2 linked regions of the Homo sapiens genome follow. The protein of the gene in region 2 interacts with the protein of the main gene of each other region in a pairwise test. Each region holds a gene or a part of one and is shown on either strand. Other genes may lie near its edges.

Region 1 (7,024 bases), on a different chromosome or scaffold from region 2:
TGAGCCGAGATTGTGCCATTGCACTCCACCTGGATGACAGAGTGAGATTCCGTCTCAAAAAAAATAAAAAGAGCCCGGCACAGTGGCTCATGCCTGTACTCCCAGCACTTTGAGAGGCTGAGGTGGGCAGATCACCTGAGGTCGGGAGTTTGAGACCAGCCTGGCCAACATGGTGAAACCTCATCTTTACTAAAAATACAAAAATTAGCCAGGCTGTGGTAGCCTGTAATCCCAGCTACTCAAGAGGCTGAGGCAGGATAACTGATTGAAGCCGGGAGGCAAAGGTTGCAGTGAGCCGAGATCGCACCACTGCACTCCAACCTGGGTGACAGAGTGGGATTCCATCTCAAAAATAATAATAATAGGCTGGGCACAGTGGCTCACGCCTGTAATCCCAGCACTTTGGGAGGCCGAGGCAGGCAGATCACCTGAGGTAGGGAGTTCAACACCAGCTTGACCAACATGGAGAAACCCCGTCTCTACTAAAAAAAAAAAAAAAAAAAAACAAAAAAAAACAAAACAAAATTAGCTGGGCATGGTGGCGCATGCCTGTAATCCCAGCTACTCAGGAGGCTGAGGCAGGAGAATCGCTTGAACCCGGGAGGTGGAAGTTGCAGTGAGCCGAGGTCAAGCCACTGCACTCCAGCCTGGGGGACAAGAGCAAAACTCCATCTCAAAAAAAAAAAAAAAAAAAAAAAAATATATATATATATATATATATATAATAACCTCAAAAACACAGGCAGGCCCCAACACAGCACAGCACACAATGGCACAGATGGAGAGGGGCCCACCAACACTCCCAGACACACAGACTTTTCAATAGACAGTGCACTGCCACCCGGTGCCCCCTGCCCTGACTGCACCCTGCTCACCGTTCACCAGGCTGCTGCTGCCAGCCTGCTCCACCAGGTTCTCCTGCTGCAGACTGGAGCGGGGCCGGGGCGTGGGGGGTGCTGGGGTGGTGCTCTCAGAGGCCTTCCTGGGGGCAGGGGTGGGGCGGCCCGCAGGGGGGCTGGCCAGCTCCTGTAGTTTGCCAGGAACCCGGGGCTTGGTAGGGATCTGCGGCCGGGCCTCAGGGCTGGCCTTGGGTCCATCGGCCTCAGCCCCTGCAGGAGCACTGGAGCTGGGGCCGCCTCCTGGAACATCCTTGGCATCTTCTGCGAGTTGCTGCTGGTGCTGCTGCTTTGGCTGTGAGAAGGGCCCAGGCCTGGTCCCCGACCGTGTCCCCGGGCCCAGCCTGGCACAGTGTTCTGCACACACAAAGGTGCCCTCCTCAGGCCCATTCTCATAAGCCCCAGGGAGCAGGGTGCTGGAGCACCGCCGACACCTGGCAGGGGACAGGACAGGGGTTCACTTAGCCAGGCAGCTGGGCCCAGGCACTGGCTACCCCTCCAGCCGCACCCAGGGCTGTCTCCTCCCTTCCCTCCTCCCAACTGCCAGCCAAGCTCGACTCCATACCCTAGACTTCCCAGAGGATAAAGAAAACAGTAACTGTCAGAAGCATAGTGGAACAATAAAATCACCAAATCACACGAACTCAGCAACAGAAATTGTGAAAAATGCCTTCAGTTTATGCTGCAAGAGGAAGAAGCAAAGGTCCCCCTGAGAGGTGGCATCCAGTGAGTGGCTGCATCCAGTAGTGGCTCAGGAAAATAAAGCAGTGGTTTTTACCCAATCAGGTGTTGTTTTGTGTTTTGTTTTCATTTTGTTTTGTTTTGTTTTTTTGAGATGGAGTCTCACTCTTGTTGTCCAGGCTGGAGTGCAATGGTGCGACCTTGGCTCACTGCAACCTCCGCCTCTCGGGTTCAAGAGATTCTCCTGCCTCAGCCTTCCGAGTGGCTGGGATTACAGGCATCTGCCACCACACCTGGCTAATTTTTTTTTGGCATTTTTAGTAGAGACGGAGTTTCACCAAGTCGGCCAGGCTGGTCTCAAACTCCCAACCTCAAGTGATCCACCTGCATAGGCCTCCCAAAGTGCTGGGATTACAGGTGTGAGCCACTACTTCCGGCTGTGTTTTGTTAATGAAATAGAATAAGATACAATGTATAAGACAGTATCATACAAGAAAGGCCAAATAGTGCTTTGTGAAACTCTTACTCCAGCTGTGCCTCTACTTACACAGTTTTATTTCAGGTAAATATTTACATCTAGTCACAGTGTCAAGTGTATTTTTTACTAGGAGTTGCTATAAAAAGTTTCTTTTTATTTTTGAGGCAGGGTCTCACTGTCACCCAGGTTGGAGTGCAGTAGTGCAGTCATAACTCACTGCAGCCTCAAACTCCTGGGCTCAAGTGATCCTCCTGCCTCAGCCTCCCAAATGCCTAAGACTACAGGTGCGTGCCACTACACTAGGCTAATTTTTTTTTTTTTGAGACGGAGTCTCAGTCTGTCGCCCAGGCCGGAGTGCAGTGGCGTGATCTCGGCTCACTGCAAGCTCTGCCTCCCAGGTTCACACCATTCTCCTGCCTCAGCCTCCCGAGTAGCTGGGACTACAGGCGCCTGCCACCACCATGCCCGGCTAATTTTTTTTGTATTTTTAGTAGAGACGGGGTTTCACCGTGTTAGCCAGGATGGCTTCGATCTCCTGACCTCGTGATCCACCCGCCTCGGCCTCCCAAAGTGCTGGGATTACAGACATGAGCCATTGCGCCTGGCCTAATTTTTTTTTTTTTTAATTTTTTTGTAGAGATGAAGTCTCATTATGTTGCCCAGGCTAGTCTTAAACTCTGGGCCTCAAGCGATCCTCCAGCCTCAGCCTCCGAAAGTGCTGGGATTATAGGCATGAGCCACCACCACACCCAGCTCCGGCCTGTAAAAAGTTTCTAAAACACTGCCCTGGTAGCCAGATGTGACTGTGTTGGTAGAGTCTGTTTCCTCCTCGAGATTTTTCCCCATGACACCCCAATTCTGCGGTCAGGTTCCAGGGTTCCAGCACCAGCTGCCCCCCACTCAGGGGCACACTCAACCAGATCAAGTGCGTGCTGCCACTCCCGGCTTCCTTGACTGTTCAATTTCCTCTTTTGGTTTCATTTTTGAAACATATAAAATGTTTCCATGAATTTTCTAAGTTTTTTTACTTTCCTTGCTGCTTATACCACTCTCTTAAAATCTGGCTTCCCTTGGAAGCCACATACTTAAAGCAAGTTGTTACTGTAATTTTTTAAAACTTCAAGCAGAACATGGTAGCACATGCCTGTAGTCCCGATTACTTGGGAGGGTAAGACAGGAAGATCACTTGAGCCAAGGAGGTTGAGACCAGCCTGGGCAACATAGTAGACCCATCTTAAAAGAAAAAAAGATTTTTTTTTTGAGACAGAGTCTCGTTCTGTCGCCCAGGCTGGAGTGCAAAGGTGCGATCTCAGCTCACTGCAACCTCCACCTCCTGGCTTCAAGTGATTCCTGCCTCAGCTTCCCGAGTAGCCGGGATTACAGGTGCCCACGACCACACCCAGCTAATTTTTGTATTTTTAGTAGAGATGAGGTTTCACCACGTTGATCAGGCTGGTCTCAAACTCCTGACCTCAGGGTGATCCACCTGTCTCGGCCTCCCAAAGTGCTGGGATTACAGGCGTGAGCCACCATACCCGGCCAAAAAAAAATTTTTTAAGCTAAAATATTTCATTTTATTTTTTCAATGGCCTTTTTTTTTTTTTTTTTTTTGAGACAGAGTCTCGCTCTGTCACCCAGGCTGGAATGCAGTAGCACGATCTCGGCTTCCTGTAACCTCTGCCTCCCGGGTTTGAGCGATTCTCCTGCCTCAGCCTCTCGAGTAGCTGGGATTAGAGGTGTGCACCACCATGCCCGGCTAATTTTCAATGGCTTTTAAAGTACACGTGGCTTTTAAAGTGCTCCTTCATCCTCATCCAGTAGTTATCCTCAAAAAGCGTAGGCGCTGGAAGGAAAACCCCTGTGCTCTAACCCTGTTTCTGTCTCGAATCATGTGGCTGAGCAACTGCTTTTCCCCTCACTAAGCCTTGGTTTGCTCATCAGTAAAATGGGGATAAGCCAGGGGCTCTGGTGTGAAGGGCCTGGCAAGGTGCCTGGCGCACTGTGTGTGCTGAACCCACGGTAGCCCCCTCCCTGGTTTCGGGGGTAACACGCGGCCCTGGCCACTCACCGGAAGCAGTGGCGATGGTACAGCCTGCCGTCAGCCAGGTAGCGCTGCACCAAGTGCACATGCTGCTGGCAGGCTGCGCACGTGCTGCTGGGGGTCTGGCCGGTGCCCTGCTCTGACAGGCTGCCTGAGGAGAGCTCCTCGCCCTGCAGAGAACGAGGTGGGGGAGGTTGGGAGCAGGACATGGTCACCAGCCATCCTGTTCACATCACTGCCCTCTCCCTCCCTCCAACGGCCACCGTCACTCAAGTGTGCACCAGGCTTCGTGGTGGAAATGGACTTCATCAGGGCCCCAGGAGGGGCAGAGGGCAGGAGGCTGCCACTGTCTCCCAGGTGAGGAAGCCAAAGCCCAGAACGGAGGAAAGCCTTGTTCAAGGTCACTGAGCCAGTGCGGAAACACGAAAATCCTGACTTCCGGTTTCTGAGGCTTCCCTCCCCAAAGGAAGGCAGCTCCTGGCTGTGCAGCCCCTTCCCCTTGGCGGCTCCTGCCCCCTCCTCCTCCCCTTTGCGGGGGAGCCCCCCTGACAGGTTCCTGTCCTCCCAGGCCGACCTCAGCTGCCTTTTCTGTTCTCTCCTAGAACTGCCACGGATTTAAATCCCAGTTTCTCTACATCCAAGCACAGTGAACCTGAGCAAGCTGCTCAAGTGTGGGCTTGGGTCCCACCTGCAGAATGAAACTGTATAACCCCTGCCAGCCTCAGCCCCATGTACCCTCATGGAGCACCCACCCTGGGGCTAGCTCCCTCCAGCAAAGAGCAGATGGGAGCAGGAGGGGAAGGCCCTTTACACACTGTAAGGTGCCGTCCAGATGTGAAGGGCTGGTGTCACTTCCTCTAAGCCCTTCAAACAGGTGACTGGCAGTTGGCCCCCACTTCCTTACTAAGTAACCTTGGACAAATGACTAAACCTCACTGAGCCTCAGTTTCCTCATCTGTATACCAGGGCCCATAATGCTGACCTCCCTGGGTTGTTGAGAGGATTAAAGGAAATCAAGCCGGGAAGTTTACAGCTGTCTCCACAGGAATCAAGGGGAATCTTTGCTTTACTACGTGTGTAACTCCTGACAGTCCCATGATGGTGAAGTCAGCATTGTGGACTGCCCTCTCTCCCCTTGCCAGAGCTGGCATCTCCTGACCCCACCTGAGTCCTGGAGAAGGAGGTAGGGCTCCCTGCCCATAGAACGGGACTGGCCTCCTGACCCATGCCTCACTGCCCCAGTCAGGGACACCTGTTCCCAAAGCCAATAGGGCAGGGACAGAGAACAAGCACCCTCTGAACACTGTCAGGGCTAACTTCCTCACATGACCCAGTCACTGCAATGATAGTCGTCCACATAACTCGCCCCCTCCACCCCTGGCCCTCCCACCTCTCCAGGTATCTGCCTACCTGAGCCACATCTTCTGGTTCCACTGGAGTGGGTGCTACAGACGGCGGGGAACAGGGTGCAAGGCCCTTTCTGGGTGGCGAGACACCAGCTGCCAAGAGATGAGAAAGGGGTCCTGAAGCAGGTGGAGATCCTGGAGTCCCAGGAGGTCCCAACCTGGCTGAAGATTTGAGACCTGTAGCCATCACCTAAAGGCAGACCACCTAATGCAGTGGGACAGGAGCTGGCTCCCGCTTCACACGGGCCCGGGGACGCTTCCAGTTTTAAGCCAAGTGCTGAGGGCAAGCCATGAACCTCACTGAACCTCCATCAAATGGGGAGAGTGACTCCTACTGCACAGAGCCAATCCGAACAATGGCGCAACAGTACGATCACAGAACACAGCACCCGCGTGTGGCTACACCAGCAGCTTCCCTGCCACCAGGGTAGAGGAGGTGAAGGAAAGGAAAAGAAAGGAACCATATGGTGCTGCCCTGACAGCTCAGGAAAGGCGCTGCCTCCTTGGGGTTGACAAGGAGCTGTCCTGCCTATCCCCAAGTGGGTATTGGGGGCCAGAACCCGGCCTGCACACCCCCTCACCAGAACAAACCCACCCACCCTGGGTTCCTCTAAGACTCAGCTCCTCAGGCCGGGCACAGTGGCTCACGTCTATAATCCCAGCACTTTGGGAGGCTGAGGTGGGTGGATCATTTGAGGTCAGGAGTTCAAGACCAGCCTGGCCAACATAGTGAAACACCATCTCTACTAAAAATACAAAAATCAGCTGGACATGGTGGTGCGCGCCTATAATCACAGCCACTCAGCCACTCGGAAGGCTAAGGCAGGAGAATCGCTCGAACCTGGGAGGTGGAGGTTACAGTGAGTTGAGATCGCGCCACTGCACTCCAGCCTGGGCAACCGAGCAAGACTCTGTCTCAAAAAAAGAAATAAATTCAATAACACTATGGTTGGTGCCAGGAGTGGCTCCAGCTGACTGGGGAGAGGCCCTTAGAAGCCACATGAAGAAGCTGGACTTCATCCTGACATTACTCCCCAACCCCTTTCTGATTTCCCACAGCCACTCGGCTTCCTTCACTCCTGCCCTGGCTCCCTGAGCAGGCTGCAGCTCCTCCAGGGTGGGGGTCTGTCTGTTGTGCCCGGGGTCACTGGCACCCACTGAGCGTGGTGGCACAGCTGAACACTCAGCACAGCACCACGACATCTCAGCCAGGGGCAGGCTCCAAACTTACCCAGTCTGGTAAAAAGTCAAGGCTAGTCAAAGTCACTCTTGAAATGCCTCCACTCGCCCAGAAAGTACAGTACAGGACCATCTGGGGGAGTCGAACAGCCAGCTTTGCCTCCAGAGTTGGAACACATCACTGTTTCCTTTGCTTAAGCAGCAGATGGGATAAAAATGGTTTGCATTTAGGGGCCAAGTTGTATGAAAGGCACAAACTGTACCTTTTCTTTTTTATTACAAAAGGCAGATTTATTAGAGAAGGTATGAAAATACATTGCGAGGCTGAAAATACAGGCAGCAT
Region 2 (7,024 bases):
TAAAAAAATGAGTTGGGTGTGGCGGCATGTGCCTGTAATCCCGGCTACTCAGGAGGCTGAGGCAGGAGAATCGCTTGAACCAGGGAGTTGGTTGCAGTGAGCCGAGATCTTGTCACAGCACTCCAGCCTGGCGACAGAGTGAGACTCCGTCTCAAAAAAAAAAAAAAAAAAAGAAAAAGAAAGTGATTCCATAGCTGATGTCTCTTGGTGGAGAAGTGGGTTTTGCCCCCTTTGTTTCCTTGACACTGTCCCTGCAATCTCACTAGTGGTGTGGTGTTAGAAAGAGATGGCTGCTCTGTGTGACCTTAGCCAGTTCATTTGTAAAATAGAAGCCTCAGTTCATGTGTAAAGTAGAAATCATAATGGTCCTTTCCCCATGGGGTTGTTATAGGATGACCTGAGATAGTGCAGGTTGCAGTGCCTGGGACTAAGTAATTGCTCAATAAATACCAGCTATTTGTTGCGACTGGCTGTTAACCTTCTGTTTAAGAATGATAGCTGATTAACAGCCTCTAATTATGCTAAAAAATGTTCCTCTTCCTCCTTAATGGCCTCCTCCCTCCCCATCCCAATCTGTGTTCAGTGCTTGGAGGGCTTGTTGTTGCAATCTCTTCCCACCTTTCCATTTCTACGACCAGCATCTCAGTTTACTGTTGGTTCTACCTGGAAGCATTACGGCAACCCCTACCCACCCTGAACCGCTCATGTGTGTGTCTGGTAGGGTCTTTTCTCTGTTTAAAAACCTCAGTGGCCCCTCTCACCTGCACAGAGTTTACAGTAAGATTTCTTCACTTGGACACTGTTGACCCTTTGGGCCCTGTGATTTTTTTTTTTTTTTTTTTTTTTTGAGACGGAGTCTCGCTCTGTCGCCCAGGCTGGAGTGCGGTGGTGTGATCTTGGCTCACTGCAAGCTCCGCCTCCCGGGTTCACGCCATTCTCCTGCCTCCCAAGTAGCTGGGACCACAGGTGCCCGCCACCACGCCTGGCTAATTTTTTGTATTTTTAGTAGAGACGGGGTTTTACCATGTGAGCCAGGATGGTCTTGATCTCCTGACCTCGTGATCTGCCCACCTCGGCCTCCCAGAGTGCTGGGATTACAGGCGTGAGCCAGCGCGCCGGGTCTGGGCCCTGTGATTTTTGTTGTGGGGCTATCCTGCGTGTCGAAGGATGTTGAGCAGCATCCCTGGCCTCCACCCACTAAATGCCAGCAACACTTCCCTCCCCCTGCTGTGACAACCAAAAATGCCTCCAGACATTGCTGAGTGTCCTTTGGAGGGACAGTCATCCCGGCTGAGAACCACTGCGCTCGTAGTCTGTTTTCAGTTCGCCTTTCTGGCTTCCTCCTACCCCCTGGTCATTCTTTTGTTCTTTGGCTTGCTTGGTTCGTTAGCCACCAGCTGTTTCTGGGGAGCCTAACTGTGCTAGGCAGTGGGCTGCACTCCTTGGCGTTCCCCTGGCTGGAAGACCCCGGGTGCTGGCCGCTTTTCTGAATGTGTTCTGGTTGCGTATCATCCTCAGCTATTTGCTTTTGAGTGGGATGTCGTTCCCCTACCTAATCTCAACCTTTGAAGTCTTACCTGTTCTTTCAAGCTAGGCCCAGATGTGACGTCCTCCCTGAAGCCTGCCTTGTTCCCCACCCCACCTTGGAATTTGACCTTTCCTACGCCCTTGCCACATTTCACATAATTGTGTGTGTGTGTGGTGTCTCCTGCACTGTTATAGCATAAGCCCCAAATGGAGTGAGAAGCTGTGCTCTTCCTAGTGTCAGGCTTTGGAAAGCTGGACTGGGCAATTACACCGGCTAGAAATTCTCCTCAAATCCATCTTTCAGGCCGGGCACGGTGGCTTGTGCCTGTAATCCCAGCACTTTGGGAGGCTGAGGCAGGCGGATCACTTGAGGTCAGGAGTTTGAGACCAGCCTGGGCAACATGGTGAAACCCCGTCTGTACTAAAAACACAAAAATTAGCCGGGCGTGGTGGCGCATGCCTGTAGTCCCAGCTACTCAGGAGGCTGAGGTGGGAGGATTATCAGACCCTGGGGGAAGGTCAAGGGTGCAATCCCACTTCACTCCAGCCTGGGCGACAGAATGAGACGCTGTCCCCCCCCCACCAAAAAAAATCCATTTTTCCCACAGATGCTGCAAGAGAGCTATTTAAAATGCAGCAGCTCATGCCACTGATTAAAACCCTTTGGTGCCTCCCCAGCACACACGAGAGAAAGTCCACGTTCTTGGAAGTGGCACACAGGTCCAAGATCTGGCCTCGCCACTTTCTGCCTGCCTTGGGCGGCAGGCTTGACCTCATGTGACCGCCCCCACTCACGGCTGTTTTTGCTACTGTCTCCCCTGCCTGGAGCAGTGGCTTTCAGACTGCAGCTCATGACCTATTTGTGTGTTTGGAAGTGAATTTTGAGGGCCCTAAATTTTTTTTGACTTGAATAGAAAAGAAAAACCCAGAGTGCCCGTAGGTCTACCATTCTCAGACATAGCTGGTGTGTCCCCATCTAGCCACTCTAAAGGAGCCTGTCCCACTCCCGCCAGTCCCATCCCGTGTTATTTCCTATGTGTCACTTTTCACTCTCGGAAATTGTCCTCTTTGTTTGTTTGCTTGCATCCTGTCTCCCTCCTTCACTTGTGTGTGGAGGGGCCTTGTGAACAAGGATGTTCAGGGCTGTGTCCCTGGGACCTAGAATGTACCAGGCACATGTAATGAGTCGGGAGGGTGGGGGAGCCTGGGGGTGTGTTGTGTGCAGCGTGGGGCTCAGGGCCTGGGAAGATACCGCGCTGGGCCTCGTTAACTGCCCTGTGTGTGCAGGCAGCTACATCACCACGATCGGAGTGGATTTCAAGATCCGGACCGTGGAGATCAACGGGGAGAAGGTGAAGCTGCAGATCTGGGACACAGCGGGGCAGGAGCGCTTCCGCACCATCACCTCCACGTGAGTCCACACGCCCACTCCCACCCAACCCGCGCCACTGACCTGTGGACACAGTTGAGCGACCGGTGCCTGGTCATGGTGGAAATGTCACTGGTGGGTCCCTGAGGCTGTCGGGAAGTGAGCCTGTTGTTGGCTGTAGTAGGTGGCGTTTGGCTGCACCCTTCCTGGTCCTGAAGATGTGAGGGGGGTGCTGTGGGGGAGTCGCTGAGCACCCTGGCTGGAGTCTGGCCGGACAGTGGCCATGTTCTATCTCCTTGGAGAGTCAGCCGACCCTCCGGCCCACTGTGCCGTCACCTTACAGAGAGAGCAGAATAGCATTTGCCTCGCTAGGGGGTTGCGAAGTGCCTTGCCCACCCAGGACTTAGTCGCTGACAATTCCTCTTGGTAGGTGTCAGTTATGGCAGCTGGAGTTGGCCTGTGCAGGCTCCCGTCACCTGCACTGATGCCTTGGAAGTGACGCTGTCTAGAGACGAACACGGTGCATGTCAGCAGGCCCTTCCCTACCCTTAAAGCTGTTCCTGGGAAATCCGGCCGCCCACCGGTTGCCCACCTTTGTGGCTGAGCTGCAGGCCGGGGGGAAGCTGGGCTCCTGCGCAGATGGGCAGTGTCCTTCGGAGCGGCTCCTGGTTATTGGGTTGTTAGTGGAGCAGGTTTTAGGAAAGAGCAGGGTCTGAAGGGGCCGATTTGGAGCTGTTGGGCTGTGTGTCCTTAGGCAAGTTGCCGAAGCTCTCTGCGCTCGTTTCCTGGAGGGCCTGCCTCTGGGATTGGCTTCCATGTGGAGGGTGCCAGGTGCTCTGCTGCAGGCGTCAACGTGCGTGCCGGGGTGTGGTGTCTGGCAGCTCTGTGTGCTTGGTGCTGCTGTCATCCCATTTGACAGAGGGCGCCCTGGAGGGGTCCCTCCCAGCGGCCAAGCCTGTGCTCCACACAGTGGCCTGTGCAGAGTGAGGGGCGGCTGTCTGGCTCCACGGGCACCTCCTTGGCTCTCTCGAGCAGCTCCTCTGGAAGTGACCTCAGGAAGGCGAATGAGGAAGTCCCAGCCAGCGGCCCCCTTCCTTCCCACAGCATGAAAGCCCGGCACTCCCCAGGCTGGCTGCCCCTGCCCCCGGGCCCCTCGGCATCTCCCGAGGGTGGGAAGTGTGGGGTGCAGCGCCCCCATGGATGGCTGGGAGTATGGGGGAGAGCAGGGCTGCTGGAGAGGGACAGGTGTGCTGGGCGAGCAGCTCCTGGGGCTGGAGCCAAGGCGGAGGGCTTGTCACTGGGTTCACCCTATGCTGAGCACATTTGTGCTGTGGCCCGTGATGCCCGGAATCCCTGGGAGCTCCCAGTCCCGGGGTCGCCCTGGTGTGGTGCTGTGTGGTGACCGTTGATGAGCCCTGTGAGCGAGGGCTCTGTGGCCTGCATGTCTTGGCAGCTGCCAGTGAGAATCTGCGGAGGACACTGGGGCAGGGCTGGCATCAGTGCTTTGGGCAGCCTGGGGCTGCAGGCCCAGGCGAGGCAAGCCCTCATGCCGTTGGCTGGTCTGGGCGCTGACCTCATGAATCCTTGCTCTGGGTTGGTCCTGTCGCTAGGATTTCAGCTGCTTTATTTTGGTTAATCCCGGTAGAGAGACCTGTGACTATCTCCATTTTATGGACAGGAAAACAGGCCCAGGGAGGATGAAGCCTCCTAACTCAGTGGGGCAGAGGTTGGGGGCACTCAGGGTTGGCCCTGAGTCTGCCGAGGCCCTGCATCGACTGGGCAGGTGGCGCCCCTGCCTTCCTGCCCCGTCCTGTGCCTTAAAACCAGGCGGAGGTTCAGGGTGGCAGAGGTTCAGAGGCCCGTGGCCATGAGGAATGAACTCCTGGGCAGGGCAGTGGGGCCTGGGGGGTCCGAGGCTCTTTCAGCAGGAGGAGCCACAGCCCCTCCCTGCCATCATGCAGTCAGCTGCTTTCTGGGCTGGGCAGAGCGGGAAGAAGGTGAACTGGTTCCTCCATTCCGTGGGGAGGCGGGGAGGAGTCACTCAGCTTCCTGGGAGCAACATGGGTTTTTCCCCAGGGGCTTGGGAAGGGGCGGCCTGTGGGCAGCGGCTGGGCCCCTGCTGCCGTCCCACGTGTCTGGGGAAGCAGACAGGTGGCTCCATCTTAGAGTCCCGCTCTGGCCCTCATGAGGCAGGAGGCCCAGCAGGGCGCCCTGAGGGGCCACTGGAAGTCTCGACGCCCTTTGATGGTCACTGGCAAAGAAGGAAGGAGTTTTGGGGAGGTGAGGAGTTTTCAGGAATAGGGCAGTCAGGATGCAGTAGCGTGACTTTTTTCCGATGCAGGGCGTTCAGAGAGAAACTGAAACTGCATCCTGTTAGCCTGGCGAGAAAAAGCCTTGTGGTCACCCCTTCTCGGGTTCTTGCTCTCAGAAGCTGAGGTTTGCCGGCCCTGAGAGGTGCGGGTGGGATGGAGGTGAGGGGAGAAGTGACAAGGAAGGCAAGGCCCTGGCGTTGGGCCTGGGAGTCAGCCCTGGGCGCCAGGACTTCCAGCTGGCCGCTGCACTCAGCCTCACGTCCTTGCTGGTCACATGGCCATCCTGAGGTCTGCTGGATCAGGTGGCTGCAGACATTAATAAGGTAATGGATACCAAGCCCCCAGCTCTGTGCCTGGCCTAGAGCAGAGTCCCTGTGAGTGAAGGTGATTCCTGGTGGCCATGGGAAACGTCGGTGCTCCGGTTCCTCCTAGCCAGAGCTCTGAGCCCCTGACTTCATCCCCAGACAAATTCTCTGCTCTCAGATAAAGCCCCTTTCCTGGGCCCCGGATGAGGCAGAGGCGCCCAGGGAGCCGCGGGGGCTGTGCGCCGGGGCCATGGCTGCAGGCGTTTCTTGGCATCTCTGATCATCTTCAGCAAAGGAGAGTCTGCAGAGCCATCCGCTCCTTGGGCTTCCTCTGCTGGCAGGGGACAGTCGCCTGTTCCTGTGGCTCCGGCGCGCCCTCGCTCTGGAAGGCGTCTGACACACCATGCCATGTGCTGACCCGGCGCTCTCAGCAGCAGCTGCCAAGGCCAGAGCTAGTTCTTGGGCCCAGTGCCAAGAGAGCTTGATCGTCACAGCTACCCCGAAGCCAAGGAGCGACGCTGCCCTGGAAGCAAAGCTGTGGGCAGAATGAAGCCCTGGGAAGAGATCCCAGCGGTCGTGTTGAGGATGGAGCAAGGATGGGGCAGGGGCGGTGGCAGGGGCAGGTTGGGCTTTGTCCCAGGGCTGGGCAGGAGCTCTGGCTCTGCAGCATCAGGGAAGATGCTCAGGGCTGCCCCTAAGCTGCCTGTTGGTTTCCTTCCACCACCTCTGTCTGGGACCACAGATTGTCCTTGAAGGCACATTGATGATGCTGAAGAACGCATACTGACTGTTTACTGCTCCCCCGCCTTGGGGTAATGCTTAGCTCCTTTCTTCCTCATGACCACCCCAGTTAAGGACTAGCCACCTGTGTGCTATAACTGTTGAAGCTGCAAGGTGTGGCAGGGTGAATGCAGGCACCTTCCCAAGGGCCAGCCTTTCAGAGATGGAGCCAGGGTTGGTCTTTGTCCTTAGATCGGGCCTCAGATGTGAAGCATTGGCCAGAGAGCTGATGGGCAGGTGGACAGGAATGGAGCTGCAGCCACAAGTCAGCCTGGCTGCCCCATTCTTGCTCAGCCTGCGCTGACTTGGGCTGTTCCTGAACTGGGGCTTGGGCTGTCCCCATGAACCTCATGGGGGTGGAGGTAATTAGGGCTGGGGCAGGTGGCAGCCAGAAAGCCGGGAGGAAGCGGCCTGTCCACTCATGGTTTGTCTGTGTGCTGTCCTGAGGAGCCCTGGGGTGGAGGTCCCTGCGGCTTTGGGGAGAGGGGACAGAGGGACAGCTCTGGCTGATTGCACAGTGTGGGGCGGGGCTGCCGCCTGGCCTCCGGCTCTTCGACAGCTCTCGGGGAAGCGGAGGCTGTGGTCCCCCTCCTCCTCCGGGGATTGATGTCGTCCTGTGCCACTGGGATGAATGGGGACATGGGGTCTGGAGAGGAGAGTTGGGCCTCCCCTTCCTTCTGGCCTTCCTGGCTGGCCCTGGGCTCTGCATGTTTGGGGTGATGGCTTTGCTG

The links. The genes of interacting proteins can lie anywhere in the genome.
Region 1: the proteins of RAB35 (region 2) and MICALL1 interact in a two-hybrid assay, tested with the Homo sapiens proteins (one study listed by IntAct).

The regions. Positions count from the first base shown.
Region 1 is NC_000022.11:37,916,278-37,923,301, reverse strand, and holds part of MICALL1 (MICAL-like protein 1), read right to left. Parts: intron 5,596-7,024; coding exon 5,507-5,595; intron 4,267-5,506; coding exon 4,124-4,266; intron 1,331-4,123; coding exon 876-1,330; intron 1-875. UniProt on the Homo sapiens protein: Lipid-binding protein with higher affinity for phosphatidic acid, a lipid enriched in recycling endosome membranes. On endosome membranes, acts as a downstream effector of Rab proteins recruiting cytosolic proteins to regulate membrane tubulation.
Region 2 is NC_000012.12:120,099,740-120,106,763, reverse strand, and holds part of RAB35 (ras-related protein Rab-35), read left to right. Parts: intron 1-2,814; coding exon 2,815-2,938; intron 2,939-7,024. UniProt on the Homo sapiens protein: The small GTPases Rab are key regulators of intracellular membrane trafficking, from the formation of transport vesicles to their fusion with membranes.